Linked DNA regions of Homo sapiens: region 2 is linked to region 1. The links come from fine-mapping of genetic effects on gene expression. A gene starts in region 1. The other region holds a variant in brackets. All regions are shown on one strand. Distances are from middle to middle.

Region 1 (3,015 bases):
GTTTCACCATGTTGGTCAGGCTGGTCTTGAACTCATGACCTCAAGTGATCTGCCCGCCTTGGCTTCCCAAAGTGTTGAGATTACAGGCGTGAGCCACCAAGCCCAGCCAGCATCAGTATTTCTGAGAAGCTTCCCTGTGATTCCAGTGTGTAGTCAGGGTGAAAACCACTGCCACTCCAGGAGGACCATGACTTGATGCTGGCTCTCCTCACTGATTCAAAATGTTGAACTTAGTCTCTGCCTGACATCCTTGAGCATTTGGGGGAGTACTGGGGTCCTGTGTCCCAAGCTTCTAGCTTCCAGAAGTCTCTCAGTCTGTTTTATTTTCAACCCCCTACACCCTTCACACTCCCCAATTCGCCCTTCCTAACCAACAATTCCCAAATCCTGCCCAGAGAGAAGGTTACCAAGGCAACCGGCTTAATCTGGTAACTGTGGCATGTGCTGGGAGAGAAGCCCTTCCCTCTTCCTATTCAGTTCATAAAATGCTACCTGGGGAGCTCCAACCCATTCCAGCCACTTTCCCCTTTCAAGCCAGGGGATATTGGAGTGTCCAATAAGGGGAGCACAGGAAGCTGATACTCAGACCTCTAATACAGCTTCTTAGCCAAAATTGTGCGCTGTCTTCTTTTTACTGTTTCCAAATCCACAAACAGATGGGTGTGCAAAGCTTTATTTCTGTGAACACATGCTCTAGCACACATGGGAACAGATATGCACATACATTGATACGTATGTCATACACACCCTGTTCAGTTTTACTACCACTCCCAGCCATTAGCATTCCTGTCTCTGCCTGGTTGGTGCTCGGTAAACAGGGGTGGGGCATTGTCCAGAGAGCCTCAACCCATCGAGAACCTGCTGCCACTCCCACACCTTGTAAGTCTAACCTGGATGTTCTCACACTTAGCATGGCTTTACGATGCACCCCCCTCCTCCCCCACACTCCTTCTGGGGCAGCATATCCTTAAGGACAGAATGCTCCTGGTGTGGGCATCAGGAGTAAGGATTACTTGGAGTGCTAATTGGCACCACTTTTCCCACTCCATGGCCATGTACACTTGGGCTCTGTGCTTGATGATAGTCGGCAGTTCTGGGGCTTGTCACCTGTCTCCATGGCCCTGCTTCCTTCTGCTGCCAGCTGGGCTCAGGTGCCCTTGTGCTCCTGGTCTCCTCCCCACTGCCTATTATCCCCTCCTCACCCCAGCTAGACCTGCCACAACCTGCTGCTCCCTGCCTGGCTCCTACCTGCCTGCCAGTACCTGCCCACAGACCAGGCCCACACCACCTATTGTGCCCTACCAGAGAGGACAGATGGGCACCGCCTCCAGTGGCAATGCTAATTCACCCAAGAGGCCTTCCCAGCTCTTCTCACAGAAGGAAGATAAACTCCACATATTTCTGTGAGTATGAGAAAGGTGCACACTCTTGGGTTCAGCAATCTGTAGGCCTGACTTGGGTACACAGGTAGGTGAGTGAAGGTGTCCAGGCCACAGACCTGTCCTGACTCTTTGAAATGATGCTGAGACCCGGTTATCCCTTGAGCCAGGAATCCTTCCCCATTGGTAAATCTCTGACTTACCTTTGCCCTTAATTTCTTCTGCTTAGAACCCAAGTCCCTTACTGTTTCCCTCGCGGTCAACCCCAGCGCGCGAGTTCAAGCCTCGTGCGGCGCGGGGGCGAGCCGAGGAAGGGTAGGGGCGGGGACTGGGCGGGGACTGGAGGAGGGGGCGCGGTCTCGGTTCTGCCACCTTCCCCCTCTTCACGGCCAGGAGCGCAGCCGCCGCCGCCGCCGCCGCCGCGTCCTCTCAGCCTTGCGCTCCGCCCGCTGCCTCTGCCGCCGCAGCGCAGAGCCGGGCGCACCGGCCCCGCAGCCTGCCCACTCTTCGGGCCGCGTGCCGGCTGCAGCCGGCATGGGGGGTTGCTGAGAGCGAGCACTCCTTTCCTCTGGCACCTCCCCCGGCTACTGGCCACTGGACTCTGGCCAGCGAGGCTCGGCCCCTCTGGCCCCCAGTCTGGCGCCTGGCACGGCCCTCTACTCTGCTCCTCCAGCTCTGAGCATCGTGTCTTCGCCGCCCCCCCCGCCCGCGCCTGGGATACCTGGGTCCCCCGGCGACCCCTAGGAGAGGGGCGGGGGGGGGCATGAAGCCGCTGGAGAAATTTCTGAAGAAGCAGACGTCGCAGCTGGCGGGCCGAACGGTGGCGGGAGGTCCCGGCGGGGGTCTGGGGAGCTGCGGTGGGCCTGGAGGGGGTGGGGGACCCGGCGGGGGCGGCGGTCCAGCCGGGGGACAGCGGTCGTTGCAGCGGCGTCAGAGCGTGTCTCGCCTGCTGCTCCCCGCTTTCCTCCGGGAGCCCCCCGCCGAGCCGGGGCTGGAGCCGCCCCCTGAGGAGGAAGGAGGAGAGCCGGCGGGGGTCGCGGAGGAGCCGGGCAGCGGGGGGCCCTGCTGGCTGCAGCTGGAGGAGGTGCCGGGGCCCGGGCCTCTCGGGGGAGGGGGGCCCCTGCGCTCCCCTTCCTCCTACTCATCTGACGAGCTGTCCCCAGGCGAGCCCTTGACTTCGCCGCCCTGGGCCCCTCTGGGCGCCCCCGAGCGGCCCGAGCATCTTCTGAACCGGGTTCTGGAGCGGCTTGCTGGAGGGGCTACCAGGGACAGCGCCGCCTCAGGTAAGGAGCCGGTGGGCTCGAACACCCAGAGCAGGGGCTGGCCCCGGCTCCTCTTCCTTGCCCTTGGAGCGTAGGGGTGGCGCCGTGCCGGGGCTTGGTTATAGGGTTGAGTGGTCCGCGGAAGCCGGCTAGGGGCCTAGCGGAGGTACAGACCCTCCCGCGGAAGAGGAGAGCAGTACTCACCTTCCTCCCTACAGCAGCCTCACCCTCGTCTGGAGAAGCAGCTGAGCCTCTTACTCTCCTTCAGCCACCCTTCCTTTCCCCTGGGCATTGGAGCCACTGACTCCCATGGGTCCCTGATGTTGAATACCTCCTCCTGTGGCCCCAAATTAGGGCCTGACACATTAAAATGG
Region 2 (2,500 bases), 52 kb before region 1:
AGCAAGCGGCTATTCATTTTGTTTGCTTTCCAAATGAATCTCATCGGGTGGCTGTTTTATTGGAGAATGCATTCTGCAAGGTGGATTGGGAGCTGGGGCAGGTCTCATTAAAATATCTCATGGTGTTGATTTGTGGAAGTTACTCAACATGGAGGTGGCACTGCTCAGACTGTACTGCAGTCTAGGGGTGTGATGGTACCGTAATTACAACACATCATATCCTTGTATGGGGGGAGTGGGAAGAGAAGGACCAGTGAAGGAGAAAAAAATCAAGGAAATGTCACCCACAAATGGTGGTTAAGGGCTGTGAATCAAAACATATACAAGGAGATGAAATGAGAGTATGGCTGATAGGGGGGTTCTCTGCTGATTGTGGAGGTTTCTGCTCAGTTCCTGAGGTAATGGCCCCTTTGCAGGCTTTCCTAGTCAGGAAAAGTGGGGTGAGTTAAGGATAGAGTGTCAGTCTGAACTTGGTACTCACTGCTTCTGTTGTGTATTGCAATCTTAATATTGCTTAAGCTTGTTTCACTTATTCCAGTTGTTGTTTGGCCTTGTCTGAAATCTATGCAATGAATGTAATGAAGGCAGCGTTAAACATCACTGTCTAACCCAGATAAAATTCTTGTAATAGAGTATAAGTAGCACAACACCTTTTCTCAAAACTAAACTAACACAAAGTTTTCAATACTAATAGAGTTCCATTTTCTGTTTAGTTTTTTAGTCCTTCCTTTTAACTAAAACTAAAGGAACTTTGATTTTAATAAATATTTAGATGAATAGGTATAATTTTTTGTGTTACCTCAAATTCAAAGGAATGTGTTTATGTCATGATTGTTGGAATTATGGGTACTGATTTCTATTTTCCAAATGAAATGTTCATTGTTTTAAAAGTACCCCCTCCCACACATACCCCTTTCAAATAACACTGCCATTCCTGGTGGCACTGTATGAGCTCTTAATTCCTTCTCAATGTACTGTTTGCACTTTGCT[G/A]TTGTGTATAGAGCTTTGGAGTAGAAGTAGAGAGGATAGAATTTGGACAATCTCAGGGCCTCTTAAAAGATCATGTAGGCTGGGCGCGGTGGCTCACGCCTGTAATCCCAGCACTTTGGGAGGCCTACGCAGGTGGACCACGAGGTCAAGAGATAGAGACCATCCTGGCCAACATGGTGAAACCCTGTCTCTACTAAAAATACAAAAATTACCCGGTGTGGTGGCGGGCGCCTGAAATACCAGCTACTCGGGAGGCTGAGGCAGGGAGGCGGAGGTTGCAGTGAGCCATTGCAATCCAGCCTGGGCAACAAGAGCAAAACTCCGTCTCAAAACAAAAACAAAAACAAACAAACAAAACATGTATACAATTAATTCTGGAAACTCCCGAACCAACTTGGAGCCACACAGGTAGCAGTAGCAGAGACCATGCCATTAAAAGGCATGTTACGGCCCTTCCCAGTGGAGAGGATCTCCCTACAGAAGAATGAACTACAAATTACCCCATGCCTCTTCCCATCTAGGTTAGCCCTTAAAATTTAACAGTATACCTTCTCTTCTCTATTTTGTTTAAGGAAAACTGTTCAGATTAATGTCTGCCTATTTAAAAAGTTGAGTTGATGTGGTCCATAGAAAGAGGCAGAAGACTATACTGATTCCTAAATGGGGCTAAGTATCTGTGTGTTTAATTTTTTATGTGTTAAGTCTGCATTTTGCTACTCTCTCTTTTAGCTCCTTGCTCGGATTGAACGTATGGAAAGGCGGATGCAGCTGGTAAAGAAGGATAACGAGAAAGAAAGGCACAAGCTGTTTCAGGGCTATGAAACTGAAGAGAGAGAGGAAACAGAGCTATCTGAGAAAATTAAACTGGAGTGCCAGCCGGAGCTTTCCGAGACATCCCAGACTCTGCCTCCCAAGCCCTTCTCATGTGGGCGGAGTGGAAAGGGACATAAAAGGTGTGCTGATAACTTTGTTTGATGAGGACCCTTGTTACCAGTGATTGAGAGTAGGAGATTGGGATTTATGAATTGGTTTTATAGCAATCATAACTTGCTTTAGAAGTCTTCTATGCGGAGGGCCGGGTGTGGTGGCTCACACCTGTAATCCCAGCACTTTGGGAGGCCAAGGCGGGTGGATCATGAGGTCAAGAGATAGAGACCATCCTGGCCAACATTTTGAAACCCCGTCTCTACTAAAAATATAAAAAATTAGCCGGGCGTGATGGCGGGCGCCTGTAGTCCCAGCTACTCGGGAGGCTGAGGCAGGAGAATCACTTGAACCCGGGAGGCGGAGGTTGCAGTGAGCCGGGATTGCTCCACTGCACTCCAGCCTGGCAACAGAGCGAGACTCCGTCAAAAAAAAAAAAAAAAGAAGTCTTCTATGCTGAGAAACTATCTTGAAACATTCTTATGCAGACTGTAAAAGTCTGTTTAGGAGTATTTTGGTCACAGTAATAATTATTGAATGCAGCTTACATCATAAAGAGAATGGGCAATAAGTATGACAGCTGAGT

What was found. PIP is the estimated chance that this variant, and not a neighbour inherited with it, causes the effect.
Region 2: its variant is the best candidate, but not a certain one, in a credible set for the expression of RAPGEFL1 in whole blood (TOPMed, PIP 0.59).

What each region holds. Positions count from the first base shown.
Region 1 is chr17:40,175,720-40,178,734 of GRCh38, forward strand. RAPGEFL1 (Rap guanine nucleotide exchange factor like 1) reads left to right here and starts at 1,751. Exons shown (of 15, transcript NM_016339.6): 1 at 1,751-2,662. The coding sequence starts at 2,143. RefSeq lists enhancers at 630-1,130, 1,131-1,631, 2,023-2,879, 2,880-3,015 and a silencer at 1,663-1,792.
Region 2 is chr17:40,124,464-40,126,963 of GRCh38, forward strand. MSL1 (MSL complex subunit 1) reads left to right here. Exons shown (of 9, transcript NM_001365919.1): 2 at 1,720-1,943. Among named protein-coding and RNA genes, the nearest start is that of MSL1, 3.7 kb to the left of the region's middle. The variant G/A (reference allele first, on the strand shown) is at 991.